Linked DNA regions of Homo sapiens: all the other regions are reported to be linked to region 1. Evidence: microRNA targets listed by miRTarBase, many of them from high-throughput screens and not tested one by one. Region 1 holds a microRNA gene; each other region holds the end of a gene's coding sequence. Distances are between the middles of the regions.

What was found. Region 1 holds the annotated microRNA hsa-miR-650 (AGGAGGCAGCGCUCUCAGGAC, at 2,591-2,611, opposite strand). A microRNA usually pairs through its seed, bases 2 to 8, with sites in the 3' UTR of a target mRNA and lowers its output. Matches are read on the target gene's strand: a 7mer-m8 pairs with bases 2 to 8, a 7mer-A1 pairs with bases 2 to 7 and ends in A, and an 8mer does both.
Region 2: miRTarBase lists USH1G as a target of hsa-miR-650. Seed matches in the 3' UTR shown: 7mer-m8 at 1,059-1,065.
Region 3: miRTarBase lists PATZ1 as a target of hsa-miR-650. Seed matches in the 3' UTR shown: 7mer-A1 at 840-846.
Region 4: miRTarBase lists NPTXR as a target of hsa-miR-650. Seed matches in the 3' UTR shown: 7mer-m8 at 871-877, 7mer-m8 at 1,307-1,313 and 7mer-m8 at 3,023-3,029.
Region 5: the mRNA of TIMM10B is a reported target of hsa-miR-650. Seed matches in the 3' UTR shown: 7mer-m8 at 1,277-1,283, 7mer-m8 at 1,711-1,717, 7mer-A1 at 1,907-1,913 and 7mer-A1 at 2,708-2,714.
Region 6: miRTarBase lists CNNM3 as a target of hsa-miR-650. The part of its 3' UTR that is shown has no 7-base or 8-base seed match.

What each region holds. Positions count from the first base shown.
Region 1 is chr22:22,821,316-22,825,401 of GRCh38, reverse strand. MIR650 (microRNA 650) reads right to left here and starts at 2,626; the gene lies at 2,531-2,626. LOC105372948 (a long non-coding RNA gene) reads left to right here. Exons shown (of 4, transcript XR_938047.2): 4 at 3,766-4,086. It also overlaps IGL and IGLV2-8.
Region 2 is chr17:74,914,588-74,918,664 of GRCh38, reverse strand. USH1G (USH1 protein network component sans) reads left to right here. Exons shown (of 3, transcript NM_173477.5): 3 at 589-2,582. The coding sequence ends at 592. Among named protein-coding and RNA genes, the nearest start is that of USH1G, 6.6 kb to the left of the region's middle.
Region 3 is chr22:31,323,393-31,327,478 of GRCh38, reverse strand. It overlaps PATZ1 (POZ/BTB and AT hook containing zinc finger 1), which reads left to right. Exons shown (of 5, transcript NM_014323.3): 5 at 170-1,675. The coding sequence ends at 588. Among named protein-coding and RNA genes, the nearest start is that of PIK3IP1-DT, 9.9 kb to the left of the region's middle.
Region 4 is chr22:38,819,291-38,823,361 of GRCh38, reverse strand. NPTXR (neuronal pentraxin receptor) reads left to right here. Exons shown (of 5, transcript NM_014293.4): 4 at 100-279; 5 at 529-4,071. The coding sequence ends at 753. Among named protein-coding and RNA genes, the nearest start is that of NPTXR, 23 kb to the left of the region's middle.
Region 5 is chr11:6,481,638-6,485,723 of GRCh38, forward strand. TIMM10B (translocase of inner mitochondrial membrane 10B) reads left to right here. Exons shown (of 3, transcript NM_012192.4): 2 at 120-215; 3 at 408-3,044. The coding sequence ends at 584. Among named protein-coding and RNA genes, the nearest start is that of TIMM10B, 2.2 kb to the left of the region's middle. RefSeq lists an enhancer at 1-486.
Region 6 is chr2:96,831,809-96,835,881 of GRCh38, reverse strand. CNNM3 (cyclin and CBS domain divalent metal cation transport mediator 3) reads right to left here. Exons shown (of 8, transcript NM_017623.5): 8 at 500-3,330. The coding sequence ends at 3,266. It overlaps LOC124907859 (a long non-coding RNA gene), which reads left to right and starts at 1,493. Exons shown (of 2, transcript XR_007087143.1): 1 at 1,493-2,571; 2 at 3,243-4,073. RefSeq lists enhancers at 2,105-2,724, 2,387-3,586.

The DNA.
Region 1 (4,086 bases):
AAACCACATCCTGTGGGCCATCCCTGTCCTGCCACCTGTTTTTCCATGGCCCCAGAGCTGAGAGTGGTTTTTATAGGTTTAAATGGTTACACTATAAATGGTGCTAAAAATACCTACAGAATATCCTCAAAGTTGACTCTTGGGAACCACAGACCAAAATCCTTCTTATCTGGACATTTAAGAAAATGTTTACCAAATTATAAAAATAAATAGCACTGAAGTATTAGAGAAAATGCTCAACTTCAAGCAGAACAGGAGAAATCAAAACTAAAAAAAGATAACATTTTTAAATCTGCTAGGTTGAAAAACATTTAAACTTTCCCCAGTGTACTCTGTTCGAATATTTATGGCTGACATTGCGAATTTGTAGATAACCCCTCTAGAGGAGAATCTGAGGACAGTGAGTGAAAATTACAAGCACACATCCTTTTGACTCAGCAATTTGACTTCTAGAAATTTATTCTATGGTCATGTCTACATATAAAATCAAAGGAGTCTACATAAGGATGTTCGCTGCAGTGTTATTTATAAGATCAAAATAGTGATAATAACCATTAAAAGTGAGTTGGCTAAAATTCTACCATAGAATACTCTACAACCTTTGAATGAATGGGGCAGTGCTCTATGCCTAGGATGTCTCAGCAAAGAATAAAAAATAGTGCATGCATGGGATGGTCTTTTACATGGAGGACAAGGACAGGGGCCTTCACTCCACTCTCTCCTTTATCCTTGAGATGATCTACATCTGCCAAAGAGGTTAGGAACTGCGGAAGTCTCCCAGCCAGAGGGAGGCTTCCACAGCCAGAGGGAGGCTTCCACAGCCAGAGGGAGGCTTCCACAGTTCCTAACCTCTTTGGCAGATGTAGCCTGAATGCAGCCTGGCCTGACAGCTTGGCTGCAACCTCGTGATTAACCAGGAGCGAGAATGACCAAACTAAGCTACTCCCAATTCTAGGTGCATCCAAGTCACAAGGTCACAGACATGTGTTCTCTTAGTGTGCTAAGTTTTGTGAGTGTTTTTTTATGCATCAATAGACAATACACTTTGGTTTTTGAAATAAATTTTAGTGTTTATATTTCAGGTACACAACATGATGTTATATAGTAGTTACTTTGTAAATATATATAGTAAACTAGTTACTTTGTTTTAAATATAATCTGTATAATCGAAGTTTAAGGAGCCTAAACTATATATGATAATAGCTGTATTTAACAACTGGCTCAGAAAATTTAAATATTGGACCCAGCTAATGTCCGAATGTGTTCTAAATCAATTCTCACCATTAGATTATTAGGGATTCCAGGTACAAAAGTATTGACAGCCATGAAAATTAGAAATGCTCGATGTCCATGAGGAAGGGAGGTGGACTCAGGTTAACTCTTTCCTGTGGAGCCATTTTGGAATCCCCCATCCTATGGGAAGACCGTCCACTTGTGAGGAGTTTCCAGGACAGGGCCTCAGCGATGTGAGGGGAGGAGAATTCTGCGAGAGCACTGAGCCTGTCACTCAAAATCTCCCCAGCTCAGCAACCTGAGGAATTTCGGCAAAGAGCAGGAGCAATAAAAAGAAAAACAGCAGCATCCTCTTTGTTCTTAATCCCTCAAAAACATCTTCAAGTCTTCTTAAAGTGGTCACTTTAAGCTAGGAGGGCCATCTTCATTAGAGCGTGGTGGACACAGAGTGGAACAAGATGCAATTCCTGGAAACTGGAAGCCATCCCCCTGATGGCTTCTGTCCAGATTGATCTGCATAGTGTGACAGATGGGGGATGCATTTAGAATGAGGATGTTCCTGAAAACAGGAGGGACTGCACCAAGCAGTAAACTCCTTGTCCCTACGTCCCTGCATTGAAGAGCTAGGAATAGTTGCACGTTAAGGGACCAGAGCACACAAGCAAAAGGAAGTTGCCACAGTCCTGAACGAGAAATCACGAGCAGGTTTCCTTTTAGACCTCATGGTGGGAAAGGAGAGGAGCTGAGAGAGGAGAATTGTCAAGGCCATCCTGCAGGAAACCCTTATACAGCGTGAGGAAGCATCTGCAGAGCAAGAAGGGGGCCTGAGAGCCCAGGGCAGGTTTTGATCTTACTTCCTCATTGACTTAAAACACTGTGGAAATTGTTGCTGCCTGCATATGAGCTGCAGTAATAATCAGCCTCATCCTCAGCCTGGAGCCCAGAGACGGTCAGGGAGGCCGTGTTGCCAGACTTGGAGCCAGAGAAGCGATCAGGGACCCCTGAGGGCCGCTTACTGACCTCATAAATCATGAGTTTGGGGGCTTTGCCTGGGTGCTGTTGGTACCAGGAGACATAGTTATAACCACCAACGTCACTGCTGGTTCCAGTGCAGGAGATGGTGACTGACTGTCCAGGAGACCCGGACGCGGAGGGAGGCTGAGTCAGGGCAGACTGGGCCCAGGACCCTGGAAAGGGAGAAACACAGTCTAGTGAGTCAGTGCTGGGCCCAGGTGAGCCTGAGGAGCAGGAGACCAAGGATCAGCCCAGAGGTCCCTGTGGCCCCTTCCCTGGAGGCATCACCTGTGCCCTGAGTGAGGAGGGTGAGGAGGAGCAGAGCCCAGGCCATGGTGGTGACGTCCTGAGAGCGCTGCCTCCTGAGACCCCAGCACTGGGCCTGCCCCCAGCCCTGTCTTATCCCCTCTGCCTCAGAGAAGGGCGGGACCTCCATGCAAATCTGCATCCTGAGCTCCTCTTCTCACCCCACCCTCACTTGGGCCTGGGCTTAGAGACTTCTGCTTCCCTTGACAGCGGGGCTCAGCCAAGGAGACTAAAGTCCCTGATTGTCTATTCTGATGACAGGAAGTTGATTTCTTTGCACGTGATTTGCTCAGGAGAGAAAAATCTGCTGAAGCCCCTCACCTGAGTGAGCTCTTGGCCCTCAGTGTCTCTGCTGTGTGGTGCCTGTGTCTCTGTGACCCTCCAGGCCTGGGCACACCTCGAAGTAACCTCTTTCTGGCACTCATTGCCAGGTTCTCTCTATTCTCAGGAAATGGGGCTGCCCAACCCCACTGGAAGCCTCTGCTGGGTGGCGTTGGTCCCTGGTCTGCCCAGCGGCAGCCTCGTCCCATCCCCACTCCCATGCTTTGTCCTGAAGCATCTGCACCATCAAATCCCTGGAGCACATCAGCCACCCCAGGCAGTGCACCCACATCCACACGGGCACATGTGGGTGGGACCCTGTGAAGGGAACAAGGAGCACCAACCAGGGCCACAGTCCTGAGCCTGAGTCCGCTGCTCCCAATCCTGCCCCTCCCACTCATGAGCAGGTGACTTGTCCTTCCCAGCCTCTGGTTCTCAGCCTGATAAATGGAGACCACAGAGTCCGTTCTGCATACAGGTGATCCATGGGGATATGAGCCAGCAGGGAAAAGGGAAAGTTTGCTAACAGGCCTTTCTATGTGCACCAGAGTGATGTTATCTTGAAAGGTTTATTGAAAGATTTACTTCCATTTTACTGTGATTTATGTGTCAGGTCACAGAGATGCACGTTTCCGGCTTTCTTACTTTCCCCCATCTGAGCACATCCTCAGGACAACCTAAAGCTGACCTCTCTCAACCCTTCGACACTGAAGACACACAGACATTCAATAAAGACATTTTTAGTTTTTCCTCCAAATGCGTTTAATCTTTCTTCATCTTTCCCCATTGCCTATGATGCAACTCTTTTAATGTTCCATATTAAAATAACTATTAAGGGATTCAGGTTCTATTTAAATATTGTAACATACACTATCCTGTCTTCCCATCTAGATTGAGCTATAAAACCATGACAAGTGCATGGAGCAGCTATTTGAGCACCAGGAAAGGAAATGGTACGCAGCAGTTTGGGATGGCCCCAGCAGATGAAATACAACAGAGTCAGTGTGAGACTGCTGGATTTCCTCACTGTCCCCTGGCTGGGACTCCAGACAGCCCCAAACCTGAAGGGGCACAAACCTGAAAACAAAAAGAAGTCCAGAAAGCCCTCTTGTTCAGGATCGAACTTGGGAAAGAAAACTTATTTGGCTCAAAGTGAAGGCTCAGTCCCCTGCACAAGCAGGTGGTTCACACCTGTGTTCTCATCTCTCTTAT
Region 2 (4,077 bases), not on the chromosome of region 1:
CTGTATTTTTAGTAGAGATGGGGTTTTGCCATGTTGGCCAGGCTGGTCTCGAACTCCTGACCTCAAGTGATCTGCCCACTCTGGCCTCCCAAAGTGCTGGGATTACAGGCGTGAGCCACCGCGCCTGGCCTTAGGGAGATGTTTTACCTACTGTTCCTGAACTTTGCAATCAGGAACGTGGGCAAATGCTCCCAAGAGGGTCAGCAGCAGCCCTGGAGGCAGAGTTCATGTTCCAAAGGCCGTCATAGTTGCCCAAGGCTGCCACCACAATGGTCATGCTGTGGCCAGCCCCTGCCCTGGCCCCTCCCCAATGGCATCCCACAGGCCCAACAAACTTTGTCCTCATTTCCTCTTAGGTATCTATGGCCGTTATCCTGAATGGCTGGGGCAGGGATGGGTGTGGGGAGGCAGGCTGGTTCAGAGTTTTGGGGATGGGGAGGTCACCCATAGGCTGGCGTCCCCCATCCCTGACAATTGGCCTGCCGAGAGATGGGGAGGCTAAGTTGTCCAGATGGCTGCCCTGGGTGAAAATGATGCCTCTGGAGGGCCTCATGTGAGATCTGTTTCTTTCTGTCTCTTCCTCCACAGATAACCGGGGGCTCCTCTCCCCAGACCAAAATGAATTGCAAGTTGCCACAACCTATGGTGGGGTCTCGAGGTCCTCACAGTTGCCAGCCCTGCAGCCCCCTTCCCCAGGAGCAAGGACCAGTTGGGGCGACTCCTTTGAAAGTCTGTCTGCACCTTGAAGCTGAGGGTGTGGCCTGGAGGCACCAGAGGGGCAAGAGAATGTTCCGGAACTCCAGTTCTGAGGGGTCTTGAAGGCCCTGAGCCACCCATTCTGAGCAGCCGTAAAGGACATGTAGACTTGGGGGAGGCCTGCCCCAGAGGGAGGGCAGGGGCATCGGAACTGGATGAGAGTGTGGGAGGTGGATGCGGGAGGGTGCACCTGTCCCGGGCGCCGTGGCCTCTCCCACCCCTCCCCTGATGGTCTTGTTCTCTTGTGCTCAGGCCAGAGACTTGCTCACTTCCTGCATTGTTGTGAAGGGAAGAGTTTGGGCTGCCTCCCCTCCTCCCGTCCACCCCAGAGGGGAAGTTCCTCAGCCAGACTCTTCAGCCAAATGCCCCAACTTTCAGTCTGTACCCCATCCCAAGCATAGCCAGCTCCCCCTCCTTCACCTAGTGGTCAAGGCCCGGAGCTGGAAAGCCGGGTTGGGGTGGGGTGGGGGTACTGACGCCCTTCCCAGCTCATCCAGGGGTGGAGCCTGGCCTGTCTTCCTCCAACCTCCCCCTTTTTCGTTGTGCAGCCTGGCCCCCCAGGGACCCCAGAGGGCCAGGGCGCTAGATGCAAGGTGCTAGACCAATGGGCTGCAGTATTATAGCCCCCAGGCCTGGCAGGCATGCGCTGGGCTAGAGAAAGGTGTCCGCCAACCTCCTCAGTCTCCCAGGCCTGGGACAGGCAGAACAGGGTGTGGCTGGGTGTCAGGCCTGGGGTGGGTAAGTCCTGCGATGTGGACACTGGAGAAAGTGGATCCTCTAAACTGCAGATTGTCCCCAGGTCACCAGGGCTGTGTGCGTGTGCATGTTTGTGTGCATGTATGCGTGTGTGCATGCATGTGTGTGTAAGTATGTGGTATGTGTGAGCACGGGTGTGTGCTTGGGTGTGTGTGTTCTTGCATACATGTGTGCGTGTGTGTGCACGTGAACGCGTGCGTGTTTGTGTGTGTGCATGCATGTGTGTGCATGTGTGTGTGTGCATGCATGTGTGTGTGTGTGCATGTGTGCGTGTGTGCACACTCACGTTGGGTGGTGTTTGGTAGGTTTCCCTCCAGGTCTGGTAGGGACTGGGCTGTTGCGTGATTCTGCGTGGATCGGGGGTAAGAGAGCTCACCTGTGTCCCAGCCCTCTGATGGTGGTGAGACCAGGGGAAAGGCCAGCTCAGAGGGTGGTCACAGCATGTGTCCTCTGACGTATGCCCCCAAAGCTCTCCAGCCAGACTGAGGTCACAGATGTGGGAGAGTCCCTGATGAGCCCGCTGACACGTGTGCGCCCCTTTGCACCCCATGCAGAGGTGCTCTCCTCCTTTCTCAGCCATGGCCCCCCATCCCTGACCTCAGCTTGGGAAGCAGCTCCTGCTGGGAGCATGGCCTCAGCCCCCAGCATCTCCTGGGGCCCCCATGGCTGGGGCAGGGGAAAGAGAGCCCTCAAAGGCCTCTTTCTGGTCTGTCTGGGGGTTCCCATTCCCACACATGTGCCCAGAGTAGGGGGCATGGAGGAGATGGTCCCTGTCCTACTGCAGGACACTGAGGGCTTGGCTGCCTGCCACCGCCATCTGGAGCCCACCACAGCTCTTCTCCCTGTTCTCTGGGCCTGAGCCTGGGGCCACCCCCAAGTGCCGACTTGTTTCTCCCAGAGCCCCAGGTGCTGCCCCTTCTCTCCTGTTCCTCGTCCGTTTACTGCCGCAGCCCCTCCTGGTTCTTCTGGTGCTGGGGTGGAGCAGGCTCTGTGCTCCCACCACTGTACCCCGAATCCCTCCTGCAGGCTCATTGCCACTTTTGTAGAGAATGTTCTCTATCAGTATCGTACCTGTCTTGTCCTTTAATGCTTTGGGGATAGAGTGAAGAGTGGAAGGGTGGGGGTGGGGGCGGGAGGGGGTCTGCTCTGCGCTTGTGAGGACTGGGTCCTATTCTCTGGAGTGTCTTCGAGACCCCATGCTGTGCATCTTTGCAGGGATCCCTAGGCCTTTACCTGCTCTCCTAGCTCAGCCCAGAATTAGGAGCTGGTGGAGAGGCAGGGCTGAGAACTAGGGCAGGAGAGTCCCCCTGAGCAAGGAGGATGGCTGAGCCTCCAGGCTTGTTGCCAGGGCCTGCAGCTACGGAGGGCAGGAGGATGCATGTTCTCTCTTCCCACCAGTGCCTACCTGGGTTTTTCCAGAGATGGGCAGAAACATACTCCAGGAGGCTGCTGCCTGTCACCTGGGCTCTGGGCCTCTGGAGGGGTCTCCATGAGGGCCCTCCAGAGGCCCAGAGGGGTCTCCATGTCCCTCATCACCGCAGGCAGCTCGTGGGCAGCCTGATTTGAAGCCCTGCTTTCTCCCAGGGGTGAGTCTCCTCCATAAGCTGGTGCCTAGTGGGCTCTGTTTTCTCAGTCAGGTCTGAGGAAGGGCCCTGGAGTCATCTTGCTCCATTGCCTAAGCTGCTGGGCCAGTTTCTTCTGCCAAAGGGAGTTCAAGACAGTTCCCTTCCCTCAGCATCAATCAGAAAGGTCCCCAGGATGTTGGTGCAGGAAGGTTGCCTAGCAACCATCCAGGGGTTCCAAGCCACCTCCCTCCACTTTACAGATGGAAAAACTGAGGCCCACAGAGGGGAAGAGTCAGACCCAGAACGCGGGTCTCTGGCTGCTGCCATGCTCTCCTCACACTCAGGCTGCCAAGGGCGCTAACACAACAGGATTCCACCAGCCATGCCCTGGGGGCGCACCTCCCTGCGGCTTCTTTGGCCATCCTGGTCACTGCACCCACCTCAGGAAAGACTCACTGGTCCTTGCCGCGATGGTCCAGAAGAGGACACGGGTGAGGAATGACAAGACAGAGAGCCGAGGGGCACTTTGGCATCCCAGCAGAGATGAACCAGAGGCAGCAGGATGAGGGGCTCCATGGGTCAGTGTGGCTCCAGGGCAGAAGCCTGGGGTGCCAGGAGCAGGAGCTGCTCCAGGGAGCCTGTGGGGATGTTCAACACAAGCAAAGAGGAGAAAATATTACATGGTAGGGGCTCAACTTTCATGACTCATTTCCCTAAAGATTTAGATCAAGAATAGGGACATTTACGAGGTCAGGAGATCGAAACCATCCTGGCTAACATGGTGAAACTCTGTCTCTACTAAAAATACAAAAAATTAGCCTGACGTGGTGGTGGGCGCCTGTAGTCCCAGCTACTTGGGAGGCTGAGGCAGGAGAATGGTGTGAACCCGGGAGGCAGAGCTTGCAGTGAGCCGAGATTGCGCCACTGCACTCCAGCCTGGGCGACAGAGCGAGACTCCGTCTCAAAAAAAAAAAAAAAAAAAAAAAGGGACGTTTTAGCA
Region 3 (4,086 bases), 8.5 Mb from region 1:
ACTCCAGGCTCCCAGACTGACCAGCTGACCCTCCGTGGGTTCTGCCAGGGCAGTGGCTGGCCAATGGCTGCCCTCCACAGGTCTGTGAGCTGGCCCCTCATGACCCCTCCAGGAGGGGGCATCTCCAGAGCCTGGCCTCATCGCTCTCCTATATTTTGTTTTTTCGTAGAAGGCCAGAAATGCTCACATCAGGATCCGATTGAGAGCTCTGACTCCTATGGTGACCTCTCAGATGCCAGCGACCTGAAGACGCCAGAGAAGCAGAGTGCCAATGGCTCTTTCTCCTGCGACATGGCAGTCCCCAAAAACAAAATGGAGTCTGATGGGGAGAAGAAGTACCCATGCCCTGAATGTGGGAGCTTCTTCCGCTCTAAGTCCTACTTGAACAAACACATCCAGAAGGTGCATGTCCGGGCTCTCGGGGGCCCCCTGGGGGACCTGGGCCCTGCCCTTGGCTCACCTTTCTCTCCTCAGCAGAACATGTCTCTCCTCGAGTCCTTTGGGTTTCAGATTGTTCAGTCGGCATTTGCGTCATCTTTAGTAGATCCTGAGGTTGACCAGCAGCCCATGGGGCCTGAAGGGAAATGAGGCAGCTGCTGTGTCCCCACGGAAACAACCATCTGGGGACTGCTGGGAAATGCTGTGAATGCGGAGGGAAGTGATGTTTGGGTTCTGTAGCTGAGAGATTTTTATTCATTTTTAACTGCCCCCCAACCCCACTCCAACTCCTTCTCCACCACCCATTCTCCCAATGGTCTTTAGAAATAGATTTTCATCTGATATTCTGCAGAAATATCAATGAGACTTGGTATGGGACAGGGGCAGAAAACACTACATAGGCCTCCAAGGCAAAACCAGTCCCAGTTTCTTTAATGGGAAGAAGCTGGAATTCCTGGTGCTCAATTCTTAGTGACCCCAATCCTATACCCAAATCTATGATATTCTGGGACCTCAGTGATTTTGGTCCCCTCCCACTTCTCTAGTTCGTCATCCTCCCTTCCCATATCCTTCAAAAGAACCACACTAGGGTCTCCACCTACTTATACAATGCGGATGCCCAACTGTTTTTAAGGAAGCCAGAAGCATCCCATGGACCATGGGGTGAGTGTCCTCCAAGAGCCCCCTGAGCTCAGCCCTCTGCCTGGAGGGCTCCAGACCTTTCTGAGCCCTGCTTGGAGGCGAGCATTTTCACTGCTAGGACAAGCTCAGCTGTTGAGGACACCCCCACCCCAAATTTCAGTTCTTACGTGATTTTAACCATTCAACATGCTGTTGGGTTTTAATTCTCTAATTATTATTATTATTGTTATTATTTTTTAGGACCAGTTGTAGTGAATTGCTACTGAAAGCTATCCCAGGTGATACAGAGCTCTTTGTAAACCGCAGTCACACATTAGGGTTAGTATTAAACTTTGTTTAGATGTACCATAATTAACTTGGCTAGTTGATTGTTTGAAGTCTATGGAAGAAATAGTTTTATGCAAAATTTTAAAAAATGCCAGTCTGGTCAGGGAAGTAGGGGGTTTCAATGCTGTTGGGAACCAGGAAGGTGGGACAGCCGGCAGGTAGGGACATTGTGTACCTCAGTTGTGTCACATGTGAGCAAGCCCAGGTTGACCTTGTGATGTGAATTGATCTGATCAGACTGTATTAAAAATGTTAGTACATTACTCTATCTGCTCCCTTGAGTCCAGTTTTTCAGCTGTGGGGGTCTTTGGGACCCAGAGGTGGGCAGTCCATACCCCAGCACCTGGGGTGGGAGTGGGATCCCAGGAGACCCCTTTTCCACTTCATTGCACCAGTTCCACTGGGATTGACAGGTAGATGGTCCCACTGAAGACTTAGAATGCCAGAATTCACCCATGTGTTCAACAAATATCCACTGCTTGTCTTCACTGCTTGTGTGCCAGGCATGGTTTCATGCTCTTGAGATATGGTGGTGAACAAGACACCACTGTGAGGCTTAATGGGATAGACAGACAACTTAAATATGAGTTCAGATAATGAGAAATACAAGGAGAAGAACTGGGCAAGGTGAGGGGACAGTGACAGCAGGAGGGTGAGTAGGGTGGACCAGGGAGGTGTGAAGTGGGGTTGGGGCTCTGGGAGGGAAGGCTTATAGAGGGGATCTGACACAGCCTACCCAGCTAGCACCTGAGGAGGGATGTGGGCAGGGACTCCTCATGGCCAAGGGGCTCTAAGAAGCTCAGCAACTTGTCTCCCCCACCATGTTATCTACCTGATGTTAAGTAAAAGGTTGGTGCACCGTTAATGGTGAATGTATGAAGAAAAGAGGGAAAGAACAACAAACAGGAGGCAAGAAGTAAGCACGATGGAGAATTAATAGGAATAAGAATGAGGAACAAGAAGGGACAGGCAGACTTAAGGCACCCTGGGCATCTTGAGAAATCTCAGGGAAGAGGGAAACCCCTAAAAGGATAGAGACAGCATTTAACCTCCAAGCAAGAAGAAAACAAAACAATGGTAAAGGAGAGAAAAACAGACCTAGGGGAACAAACAGCACAAAAATTTTTAGACCCACATTGGTATCAGAATTACATTATTTTTTGTTTTTTTGAGACGGAGTTTTGCTCTTGTTGCCCAGGCTGGAGTGCAGTGGTGTGATCTCGGCTCACTGCAACCTCCGCCTCCCAGGTCCAAGCAATTCTCCTGCCTCAGCCTCCTGAGTAACTGGAGTAACTGGGATTAAAGGCATGCACCACAATGCCTGGCTAATTTTTGTATTTTTAGTAGAGACGGGGTTTCACCACATTGGCCAGGCTGGTCTCGAACTCCTGACCTCAGGTGATCTGCCTGCCTGGGCCTCCCAAAGTGCTGGGATTACAGGCGTGAGCCACTGCACCCTGCCTAGAATTACATTGTTCTGGTGTAAAGGTAAAGACTCTCAGCTGAATTTTTTAAAAAACAATTCTAAGCCATTTACACAAAATCCTTGGTAAGCTGCTGGGCTTTGCAGACTGTGTGGAATAGAGGCTTAGGCCATTAGATGTGAGTATCAAAGGAAAGGGTGACCCTAGAATGTGGAGGCCCTGTGGACACGTAGCTTTGTGACCACCACAGAATCTGGTCACACCCACTGAGTGTTAAGAGAACCTGGCCTTGAACCAAGGACTTGACTGGGCCAGCCCGAGCTCCTGAACGCATTTTAGTTCTGCTCCCTGGAGACCTGTGAGCATGTCCATGGACAGGTAGGGACCACAGGTATTAGAAAGGAGTATCTGTCACATGGCAGGAGGGGAACAACAGAGCAAGCAGGCTGTTGCATCTTCCAAAGCACTGCTCCCTTGGCAGCCTAAGCTTTGGGAGGCTAAGGCAGGAGGATCACTTGAGGCCAGGGGTTTGAGACCAGCCTGGGCCACATAGGAAGACTCCATCTCTACAAAAAATGAAGAACAGCTGCACATGGTGGTGCCCGCTTGTAGTCCTAGCTACTCAGGAGGCTAAGGCAAGAGGATCGCTTGAGCCCAGGTGTTCAAGGTCACAGTGAGCTATGATCACGCCACTGCATTCAAGCCTGGGTAACAGAGTGAGGCCCTAACGCTAAAAAAAAAAAAAAAAAAAAAAAGGAAGAACCACCTGAGCTTTGGCTATTCGGCTCCATCATCTGCTCTCTGCCAACCTTGGGGAAATCCCTAAATCTCTGAGCCTGTTTCCTGATCAGGTCTTTTGTGGAGACCAAAAGAAACCATCATCATGAGCTAATCCCCTGCACAACCTATAAGGTTGGTTTCATTATTCTATTATCATCCCCCTCTTGCAGGAAACAGGCTCAGAGGGATGGAGGAACTCCCCTGGGTCACATAGTAAGTGGAAGAGTCAGGATTCAAACTGAGGTCTGCCTTGTCCTCAGACTTTACTCCTAAGCTCCCAGTGATAGTTTCTGGTTTTTTGTTTTTTGGTGTTTTTTTTTTAGACAGAGTCTCACTCTGTCACCTAGGCTGCAGTGGTGCTATCTCGGCTCACCTCCACCTCCCGGGTTCAAGCGATTCTCCTGCCTCAGCCTCTCAAGTAGCTGGGATTACAGGCACACGCCACCACACCTGGCTAATTATTTTTTTGTATTTT
Region 4 (4,071 bases), 16 Mb from region 1:
AGGATGGACATGGGTCTCCCCAGCCCCACCCCACTGCCTCAGCCATGGGCCTTGGGCCTTGGGGCACCTCTGACCTGGGGTTGGGGGACCTGTGTCCAGGTGGCCCAGCTGCCCCTGAGCCTGAAGGACAATGGCTGGCACCACATCTGCATCGCCTGGACCACAAGGGATGGCCTATGGTCTGCCTACCAGGACGGGGAGCTGCAGGGCTCCGGTGAGAACCTGGCTGCCTGGCACCCCATCAAGCCTCATGGGATCCTTATCTTGGGCCAGGAGCAGGTAAGGCTCAGGCTGATATTGGGGCTGGACCTCCTAATTGTGCAGATGGGCAGACTGAGGGCCAGAGAGATCAGAGACCTGCCCAAGGAACTAGAATCTTGAAGGTGGGGCTAGAGCGTTGGCGGTGGGGCTTCAGTGGGGTTGAAGGTGGGGCTGCCTCGGGGACAAGAGCCTGACTGAGCCAGCCTGCCTGTCTTTTCTGCTCCCTCACTCCATGCCTCTCCTTTCTCTGCTGCTGTCTTGGCCCAGGATACCCTGGGTGGCCGGTTTGATGCCACCCAGGCCTTTGTCGGTGACATTGCCCAGTTTAACCTGTGGGACCACGCCCTGACACCAGCCCAGGTCCTGGGCATTGCCAACTGCACTGCGCCACTGCTGGGCAACGTCCTTCCCTGGGAAGACAAGTTGGTGGAGGCCTTTGGGGGTGCAACAAAGGCTGCCTTCGATGTCTGCAAGGGGAGGGCCAAGGCATGAGGGGCCACCTCATCCAGGGCCCCTCCCTTGCCTGCCACTTTGGGGACTTGAGGGGGGTCATATTCCCTCCTCAGCCTGCCCACGCACTGGCCTTCCCTCCTGCCCCACTCCTGGCTGTGCCTCCCATTTCCCCTCACCTGTACCCACACCTCCAGAATGCCCTGCCCTGCGAGTGTGTCCCCTGTCCCCACCTGAGTGGGGAGGAGCGTCTCAAGTGAACAGTGGGAGCCTGCCCACCTGGCACTGCACTGGAGTTGTCTCTTACCCCACCCTCCCTGCCCATCAACTGTATCTGATTTCACTAATTTTGACAGCACCCCCAGTAGGGTAGGATTGTGTATGAGGGGGACCCCACTATCTCAGTGGTGGGGGTGGCCGCCCGCCCCCTTGTCCCCCATGCAACAGGCCCAGTGGCTTCCCCTTCAGGGCCACAACAGGCTGTAGAAGGGGATGACGAGGACATCAGAGGTTAGACTTACCCTCCTCCCTCTTTCCACCAGCTGCCAGTCAAGGGCAGTGGGATCTCGATGGAGCCTCCCCCCCCCCCCACCCATGCCTCCCTCTTCCTCCTCTTTCCTCCTCTCTTTGTGTGTAGCGGTTTGAATGTTGGTTCCATGCCTGGCCCAGCCCCACCTCAGTCTCCAGGACATTCCTTTCCCAGCTCCAGCCTGGAGGGAAGGGGACAAAGACCCCAGGAGGCCAAAGGGCTGCAGTCACCCCTTGTGCTCACCCATAGTGATGGCCACTGGTATAGTCATCGCTCTCCCTCCATGCCAAGGACAGGACTTGGACCGCTTCAGCCTGGGCTGGGAGCAGCCCTAAGGTAGAGGCCTCATGGCCCAGGAGACCCCACCTCTGGCAGAGCCACATTACCTACCCTGTGCATGGTCCTGGGGCAGCAAGGAAGAAGCTCAGAGGGTGGGGAGAAGCATGAAGCAGTGAGCAGAGCACTGGGTGAGAGGGAGAAGACCTTGGTTCCTAGCCAGCCCTGCTAATGTGCTGTGTGGCCTTCTGTAAGTCCCTGCCCTCTCTGGGCCTGGCCTTCCTCATTCGTGAGCTGAGGCCCTCGCTTTGGTCATTTGCTCTCCAGATTGGGTGTGAGCTTCTCTGTGATTCCAGGTGGATATGTGGGGAAAGCTCTGGTGACCCTGGGCTTCGCAGGGGTAGATCCCAGGACTCGGCAGTGGATGGGATGCAGCCAGTCATGGGTTAGGGTCAGCAGAGACTCAGAGTCCAGGGCAAGGTTCAAGGCAGACTAACCTCATGCATGGATTGTAAAAAACCAGCTCCCTTTGGATCAACCCAGCCTGGCACCCTTGCCTGTCTGAGAGTGTCTCAAAGGGCTGATGGCTTCCTGGTCCCCTTGAGTCATCACCAGCTTCCCCAAGAGAGTGTCAGAATCTTAAGAGCTGAGAGGCCGGGCACGGTGGCTCACGCCTGTAATCCCAGCACTTTGGGAGGCTGAGACAGGCAGATCACTTGAGGTCAGGAGTTCGAAGTCAGCCTGGCCAACGTGGTGAAACCCCATCTTCACTAAAAATACAAAACTTAGCTGGTTAGGTGGTGCATGCCTGTAGTCCCAGCTACTCGGGAGGCCGAGGCAGAAGAATCTCTTGAACTGAGGAGGTGGAGGTTGCAGTGAGCCGAGATCACGCCATTGCACTCCAGCCTGGGCAACAGAGCAAGACTCCATCTCAAAAAAATAATAATAATCTTAAAGATGAGAAAAGCCACCCCATCTGGCACCACAGCTGCATCTTGCTTGTGAGAAATGGGGAAGAGTTCAGGGAGGACACGTGACCTGCACAGGATCACAGAGCATGGGGCAGAGCCAGGACTAGAGCTCAGGGCATCTGACTCCCTCTTCAGTGTTCTTCCCCCTCCATGTTGCCTGCCCCTGAAGACCTTTGAGTTCAGTCTACACCTAAGCAGGTAGACATCCGCGAGGTCAGATGCTTTCCAACATGACACCTGAACATCTTCCTTTATGCAACACCCAAACATCTTGGCATCCCCACCCCAGGAAGTGCGGGGAGGAGGTTATGATCCCTGGGCGCTTCGGCAGAATGGAGAGCTGAGGTGTCCCTCCCCTGCTAGTCACCTACCAGGTGTCTGAGCAGCTGCATGCTCCCTGGCTCAAGTGGGCACTGTACCTTTTGCCTGCCTTTTTGTTCCCTATCTCCACTCCCTGAGGCCACTTAGCCTGAGACATGATGCAAGAGCTGCAGGCCGGGGGGCTCAGTGCCATGGAAGCTACTCCAAGTTGCATTGCCTCCCGCGCCCAGATCCTGCTTTCCATTTCGAGAACATAAATAGATTGCCCAGCCCCTCCAGTACAATCCCACTGGAAGAAAAGGCAATGGCGGGCTTCAGCCAGACCTGCTGAGACCTAGGTTGCCACGGTAACAGCCAAAGACATCAACCCAAGTGCTGGGTCAAGTGTCTCATCATACTGGCACTGTTGCTGGGGTGACGGCAGAATTCAGAACTTCAATTTCAGTGACGCCAAGCTTGATGTGTTTCTGTTATTGTTTTGAAGAAGGTAGCTCTTGTGGAGGACTTGGGAGAAGGATGGGGTCTTAGGAAGGAGGTGACAGCACTTGCATGGTCACTTGAGCCCACACACACGCTCAACCCCAAGTCCTTTATGCTTTGTCACAGTGAAGATGAGACCTCTGACGTCCAAGCCTTGTTCCTGTGCTGCATCACCCACTCAGCCTTCCAAAGGGAACAGGAACAAATTTCCCCAGCACCACTGTTTGGGTCCCGCTTTTCCTATCTTCTGCTGCCCCTGAGCACATCCAAGCAGACAGGGAAAGAGGAGTCAGACATGGCCCAGTCACATCCTGAGCTGCTCCTGGCTGATAACCACGATGGAGCCCGTGTTTGTCCTGCCATCTGGCACTGCACTGAGTGTGGCACAGGCACCGTCCTGTTGATCTCACAACACAGTTCTAAGTTAGGACGTTCTTGGCTCCGTTAGACAGGTGAGGAAACTGGGGCACAGAGAGGTGATGTCATCTGCCTGGTGTCAATCAGCTAGCAAGTGATGGAGCCCAGATTTCAAACCAAAGGGGGTTACGTCCAGGGGCTGAGTTCCCACTCACCTGTGTAGAGTGCCATCTGGGCACCATTGCTCCAGACGTGTTCCGACCCCTTTCCCAGCCCACAGGGCTTGAAGTGAAGGAACAGAGGCAGGGGGTGGGCCAGCCCCAGGGCCAGGGTCCCCTTGGTGAAGCCGTGCCAGGGGGCTCAGCTGCTTCAGGGAATGTGTCCCTCCCACCATGGGCCAGAGCTTCAGCCCTTCTTTAGCTCAGC
Region 5 (4,086 bases), not on the chromosome of region 1:
ATTTGAGGGCTGGAAACTTCGGGCTATGGCGCGCGGGCCTGGGAAACTTTGGGCGGCGCGACCTTGACTAGAAGTGTGGGGCCCTTATCGCTGAGTTTGTGGTCCCCCTTTTCTCTCAGCTGCGTGACTTCCTGTTGGTCTACAATCGGATGACAGAACTCTGCTTCCAGCGCTGTGTGCCCAGCTTGCACCACCGAGCTCTGGACGCTGAGGAGGTGGGGAACTGTGTAGGGAGGTTACGCTGCAAGAAGAGTTTAGCGGTAGACTGCTTCCCTCCTCACCCCACTTCCCGTACCTCTGGCCCTGGCCTTCCCACGACCCTCACCCCTAGGCTGGGCATGGGGAAGAAAGGAGGCGGACCCGACAGGGCACCTTTATCCTCCACTTAAACCCTATCTTCCTTCTAGGAGGCCTGTCTGCACAGCTGTGCTGGGAAGCTGATCCATTCCAACCACCGCCTCATGGCCGCTTACGTGCAGCTCATGCCTGCCCTGGTACAGCGCCGCATCGCAGACTACGAGGCTGCCTCGGCTGTGCCAGGCGTTGCTGCTGAACAGCCTGGGGTCTCTCCATCAGGCAGCTAGCCATACCCAACCCCAGGAAGGAAGGCCTTGGATGGACCCTCAGATTGAAGGACCCGGTGGACCTTGGGGTTGGTGAATCCTAAACAGAGAGAATTCGAGGTTGCCTGAAAGCTGGGTGTCCTTGCTCCTTTTCCTGGAGCCAATATACCCAGTTTTTACTCAGTTTGATTTATATTCTGGGCAAGGAAGCTTTGCCTACTTTATTGGCACAATCCGTTGTTCTGTCGTTTAGTGCATATCTGCTGGCTTCAGCCCTGGCAGCTGAGAAATTGTTTTCTATATGTAGAAGGAAAACCTGAGCATTTGCAGGCATCTGGTTAAAGCAGGGTCTGTGTGTACAATTTTAAAACGGGTAATATGTCATGCTCTTAGTTCATCTTCACAACAAAACTATGAGTAAGCGGTATTAGCCTCACTTAACAGATGAGGAAGCAAGATTCCAGAAAGTACCAGAAGGTCATTTTATACAACAGGAGATTGGTTCCTGCCCAGATGACAGAAAATGGGAGCTCTGTCTAGTTGTCCTTAAGTCTGACTGACTTCAGTGGCTCATAACCGTGAGCCAAGTATTTGTTGGTTCATAACTGTTGTTTTGTGAACTATGTCTTACATGTCTAGAGTTCTGCTGGATCTAGGGAAAGGAGGAGCTATCGAAGTACAACGGATCAAAAAACCACAGGGCTTTTGGGCACTGCCTCCTTGGGAAGTTAGTGGCCACAGAAGAGAGATGAAACCTGTAAGAAGTCTGGAGTCTTTTGGAACTTCAGCCATTTCCCCAGGTTGTTACTTTCTTAGTATGTACAGTCTTCTCAGGATGAGCAGTAAAACCTTTGAACAAAGGTCTGTGTGGTTGTCTTCACGGGCAATCAGGAAGGGAGAGAGCTGGGGACCATATTCTGCAATGCAGCCAAATCCGAGGAAGAGAAACTGAAGGGAGAAGTAGATGGCAATGGTTATGATAAAAAGGGATAAAACTAAATCTTCGGGACTTCTTTAATGCTACGTTAATGTTTCACTGCTCGTCTAGAAACTCCTAAATCCAGCTTTCTATCATCTGCCCCACATTGGTCCCATTGAGTACATTCTGTGATTTCTAATTCCAGCCTCTCCATTCTTTTCTCATTATTGCCTCCCCCGCCCCCCAACTTTGTGTAATTTACTTCTGTATTCAGCAGCCTGGATAGCATATCATTCCATCACCCCATTTTCTTGCCACCATTGGCCATCTTTTTGTATCATTCCACTTATTCTGTCTTTTCCATTCCTTCATTCAAACTGCTAGAGAAAAACAGTTGTGTAATGAATGCCACTAAATATTCAAGGCCTCCAACCTCAGCCAAGTCCTCACACCAACACGCAGTCACACCAACACACACCTTTATGGGTTCCTGGTCCATTTCCTTCTCTAATTACCATGGCAGTTATTTTACACCTCTACTGCTGTCCTTAATCCCATACCCCACCCTCATCAGGTGACCCTGTTTCCTTTTTTAGAGAAATTGAAGCTCTTAGACATTGGTTTCCACAGTAATAATTTTAAAACTTCTTACAACTACCTACAAAGCAGATGTTCTATCCTATCTACAGAGCAGAAAATTGAAATTCTCAAGTAGCAGACCCGGTATTAAAGTGCAGATCTGACTTTAAAGTCCATGTTCATTTTACACAGCAGGCTGCCTCTTAAGATAGTATTTATTGAGCACACACTTTGTGTAGGTTCTGATTTTGGTAGATGTCATGCTTTATATTAATCTTTACAACAACTATAAGTAAGAGGTATTAACCTCACTTAACAGATGAGGAAGCAAGAATCCAGAATGTGCCAGAAGGCACATTCTGCAGATTTCGTGCAAACATTTATACACAGCTTCTTTTTTTTTTTTTTGAGACAGAGTCTCGCTCTGTCACCCAGGCTGGAGTGCAGTGGAGCGATCTAGGCTCACTGCAACCTCCGCCACCCGGGTTCAAGCAGTTCTCCTGCCTCAGCCTCTCGAGTAGCTGGGATTACAGGCATGCGCCACCACGCCCAGCTAATTTTGTTTTTGTATTTTAAGTAGAGACGGGGTTTCACTGTATTGGTCAGGCTGGTCTTGAACTCCTGACCTTGTGATCCGCCCGCCTCGGCCTCCAAAAGTGCTGGGATTACAGGTGTGAGCCACCACGGCCGGCCTATACAAAGTTTCTTATTGAGAAAAGTGGTTCCAATCATGTTTTTTGCCCCCTTTAGCTGCTATCTCTTGAACAGAAAAGTTTGTTAGGAAGGTAAAAGTTGCTGACTAGGACCTTACCCACAGGGTGGCACTCTGTCCTTGGGAAATATAAATGCAAGTAAAACAGGTTTGAACTTCTTAACTTCCAGAAGATAGGAGGATGGGACCTGTGATACTGTGCTGCTGGTGGGAGGACCCTTCCACATCAACATTTGTGTGTATCCTTGCAATAAACTTCCATTGTGAATTATCTGTGCTTCCCGTCCTTCCATGTCACACAATAGTAATTGCTAAAGAAGAGCTAGGAGCATAGATCTGTCTGATTCTAAAGCCTTTGCTCTTTGAACTTTGAGAGCTTCTATCTGTACTTAACCTGCCTCTAGGCATGAAAAAACAAATGTCCCTCAGTCTGACCCATCTCTTAATCCCTTTCTTAAAATTTCAATCTCTTGTCCTGGTTCTTTCCTGTTTATAAATATGTTCAGTGTTCAGGAGAAAAACCTTATTCCTACCACTTTACCTTCCATAATCTGGTCTTCCTCAGGTTTTACCATAAAGTGATAGCCATTGGCATAATCGGAGCAATGTGATGTTCCAAGCACAACACTAAAGAATAAATGTTGACAAGCTTTATCATGTTATCATAAATGTAAACGTTGGAGATACTTTGTTGTTCCTGCCATTGTGGCTTCAGAACTGCCCACTCCTTTGCAAAGCCTCATTCTTTTGAGGCTGTTCATCCATACAACCCTCTGATTACTTGTCTACCACTCTCATTTACTACTACTCTCCTGCTACTTTAAATAGCTAGCCCTTGGTCTTCCTGTCCACTCCTTGATATTTTAACATTTACATAGACAATTCATTTGGTGTTTTGTCTCCTAGTTATTTGGCCCAATCTCTGATGATTTCCACTCTGTCTTGGCCACTCACTCCGTTTGTCATATCTTGGCCATTATCATCACCTCAAATTGCTCCATCTTCAAAATACTTGCATCTTATTTATTGACCATATTCCTTCCACTTGGTTTATTGAACTATTCCCTCTATCATTCTCTGATTTCACTGCAGCCAATGCTTCTGCTTTCCATTAGTCCCTTCCTTCTTTAGATTCCTGTATAGCTTAAACTAGTGGTTTTCGTGCAATAGGCTGAATTTCCTTGCCTTTCATCTCTTTTTGAACCCTTAAATAAAGTGATACTTGTCTGTACCTGCATTTGGACAGCTAAATGCCACCCCAGGAAACAACTGTGGAGCAGATTTATATCACTATGAATCCATGGTTATCAGCT
Region 6 (4,073 bases), not on the chromosome of region 1:
CACACCTGTCAGAACGGCTGAAGTAAAAACATGTGGACACCACTAAGTGCTGTGGAGGATTCAGGGAAACTGATCATCCTAGGTTGCCGGTGAGGACATGAGTTTGACAGTTTGTGGCCAGGTGCGGTGGCTCACGCCTGTAATCCCAGAACTTTGGGAGGCTGAGGCGGGCAGATCACGAAGTCAGGAGATCGAGACCATCCTGGCTAACATGGTGAAACCCCGTCTCTACTAAAAATACAAAAAACTAGCCGGGCGTGGTGGCGGGCGCCTGTAGTCCCAGCTATGGGGAGGCTGAGGCAGGAGAATGGCATGAACCCGGGAGGCAGAGCTTGCAGTGAGCCGAGACTGCGCCACTGCACTCCAGCCTGGGCAAAAGAGTGAGACTCCGTCTCAAAAAAAAAAAAAAAAAGTTTGATTGTTTAAAAAACGAAACATGCAACAACCCTATGACCAAGCATTTACACTCCTCGAAAACTAATCCTGACACAGAAACCTGTACATGAATAGTCGTAGCAGCTTTATTTGGAATAGCCCCAAACTGGAAACATCCCAGGTGTCCTTCAGGGGGCCAATGCATACACCACGGAATACCACTCAGCAATAAAAAGGAGCAAACTGTTGACACATGCAATGCCTGGATGATCTCCCGAGAATGACGCCGAGTGAAAAAAGACAATCCCGAATGCTTACACACTATGCTCCCATTTATACAACATTCTTGAAATGACAAAATAAGAAGAGATGAACGATTAGTGGTTACCAGGAGTTAGGGAAGGTGGGGAGGGAGATCCTTGTGGGGATGGGACTTCTTTATCCTGATTGCAGTGGTAGTTACACAGATGTACATGTGACAAATGATTTGGACTGTCCACCCACATCGCACCAGTGTCAGAGTCTTTGTTGGAATACTGCATTACAACCATATAAGATGTAACCATGGAGGGAAACTAGATGAAGGGTGCGTGGGGCCCTTACCTTTACAACTTCCTATCATCTGAAATTATTTCAAAATATAAAGTTAGGAAAAAAGAAAGCAACAGCTCTAAGTGCAGTATGGCATCCTGGATTGGCTGCTGCAGCAGAAAAGGGACATTGGGAAAAATGGTAAAATCCAAATAAACTCTAGCTATTAGTATGATTGCACCTTTAGTTTTGATAAATGTACCAAGGTTATATGTAAGCTGTTAACATTAGGGGAACCTGGGTGAAAGGTGTATGAAACTTCTGTGAATCTGGGCACGGTGGCTCACGCCTATAATCTCAACACTTTGGGAGGCCGAGGCAGGAGGATCGCTTGAGCCTAGGAGTTCGAGACTACCCCAGGCAACATAATGAGACCCTATCTCTACAAAAAAAAATTAAAAGTATTAGCTGGGTGTGGTGGTGCCTACCTGTAGTCCCTACTACTCAGGAGGCTGAGGTGGCAGGATGGCCTGAACCAGGGAGGTCGAGGCTGCAGCAAGCCGTGATCACACCACTGCACTCCAGTCTGGGCGACAGAGCAAGATCTTGTCTCAATAATAATAATAATAATAATAATAATAATAAATAAATAAAAAATTGAAAACTCTGATGCCGACTCTGATTAAATCACAAGCTCTGGTGGCAGGTCCACGTATTTTTAATTTGCCAGGTGATTCTGGTGTGCAGCCAAGGTTAAGAATCCCTGATCTTAGCTCACACCTATAATCCCAGCACTTTGGGAGGCCAAGGCAGGCAGATCACCTGAGGTCAGGAGTTCAAGATCAGCCTGGCCAACATGGTGAAACCCCATCTCTACTAAAAATACAAAAATTAGCCGGGTGTGGTGGTGGGCACCTGTAATCCCAGCTACTCAGGGGGCTGAGACAGGAGAATGGCTTGAACCTGGGAGGTGGAGGTTGCAGTGAGCCAAGATCTCACCACTGCACTCCAGCCTGGGTGACAGAGTGAGACTCCATCTCAAATAAACAAACAAAAAACCACTGTTCTGGAGAGAGGATTTTAAAGCATCTGTTTCCAACCCGGGCTTGCTCTCAGAGTTTATTCCTTGAGGACAATTTCTAAGCAAGGATATCACTGTTGTTTTGACCTTCAGTCCCATTTATAAGGGTCCAAATTCCTTTGAGAAAAGTTCCAGAAATCCTCCTCCCTCCCTACCCAATCTATGATCCTATGTCCTTGTGATGCCCGTTTCCACACAGCTGAAGAACTACGGAAGGAAAATGTAGTAAACTAGAAGAAAAAGACAAATGCCTTCCTGTTCCCACTTCTCTAAAACCCCATAGCTAGGAACAGAAAAAAAGGAAAAGACTTGAAATGTTCTAGAGATATAACAAAAACTTTTTTTTTTTTAAAGAGGATCCACCTGGTTCATGAACCCTCCCTCACTGCTCTCTGCACATCACGGCCACACAGCACCTGCAGGGAGGCTGTGGGGAGGTGTGGAGCAGGTGCAACAGGCAGCTACTCTCCTGGGGGCCACACGGCGGAGAGAGGATTCGATGCAGCATGACGATCCCTTCCTCCCAGGCATGACCTCTTCTCAGAACACGGGAACTGACAACACTGCGAGTGGCAACTCAGCAGGTGGGCAGAGAAGCAGAAAGGGGCCCTCAGCACCACTAGGCCAGCTCTCAGAATCAGAAGAGCAGCCTCCAGGGAGGGAGCAGGGCTACAGGGACAGCCTACGGGCAGTGGAGCTTCTGGTTTGGCACATGGGAAAGGCTGGGGCGCATGCGCTGAAACATGACACCATCAGGGAAGCCAGAAAGGACAACATGGACAAGGCCATCGATCTGAACCCCCAGCCAAAATGGGTGCTCTCGGCTTGCTCAAAAAGTGCTGCCAGCAGCGATAGGTTGGCAAATTAAAAGCAAACAAATAGAGGTCACGGCCACACAAAGGCAGTAACTGCACTCACAAGGTGGCTCAGCCCAAAGAGGTCTGAATCTGAATATGCCGCACTGTCCCTGCCCCGGGGGAGAAGGGGAAGGCTGGGCCCTGGGAACTAGAGATGATGGCATTCCTTTCATTCCTTCCTGAGGCGGGCCTGGAGGGCTGTGCCCTGGTGACTCCTGTCTCCTAAAGGAGGGCAGGGCCGGCTGAAGGATCCAGGCATTGATGTCTAGTTCTGAGGACACCCAGGACCCGCAACTACAAGGGCCATCTAAAACGTGGCCTGGAGGGGATGGGGGCAGGCGGGCACAAAACTTCTGCTCAGCTCACTCCAGCTCCCCACGTGCTCATCTGTTCCCCAGATCTGGGGCTGCCTAGTGAGCCGTTAAACGCCTGGGTTCCGCCCAGGGCTGCCTTCCACCGGGACGCCGGGCCTGCTGTGGCTGGACCCTACAGGAGACAAGGGAAGGAGAATTAACATCAAAGCTGGTAAAGTATCCTGTCAAAACCAAGTGCCAAATCCTCTGTGGGACAGGAAGGGGCAGCTAAGACAGGTGCTTCGGGATGCCTTGGGAAGTATCAGAGCAGAAACAGGAGCGACTGGTTAGCAGATGGTCAGCCAACAGATGCCTTCCCTGGGAGACGGGGAAGCTGGGGCTGTGGATTTCTGGCCCCGAGGGTCCCAGGTCATTATGCTGAACAAGAGGCACCTTCCCGGGACGATACAGCACCCTGTGCTGGAAGGAAGCACCATTTTCCACAGTGGAGGAGTCTCATGACCCCTCCTGTCTTCCAGAAGGATGGAAGGGAGCGCCCACCCCACACCCCTGGAGAAAAATGCCCCCCAGCCTGGGGAGCCATGGGCTCTGCTCCTCCCTCAGCTGAAGGGCCAGGAAAGGGAAGTGAAGGGGCAGGGAGAGGGAAGATATTTACCTTACGTGTGCTCTGAAAACAAAAAACGCGCACTAGTCCACAGTCATTTATCAACTGCAGTTTCCAACTGTGCCAAAGAGGGAAAGGTCTACTGGGAAGGCTAAAGAGAGCAGAGAGAGAAAGAAGAGGAGAAGCTATTGAGCAGAAATGGTTGTGCCTCTTGGCTCCGGGCAGCACCATGGAGAGGGCCGGTGCCCCGGGCAGGGGAAGCTGAGGGAGAGCTGGCAGCTGCAGTGCTGGTGCTGCGCTGCCCCACAGCC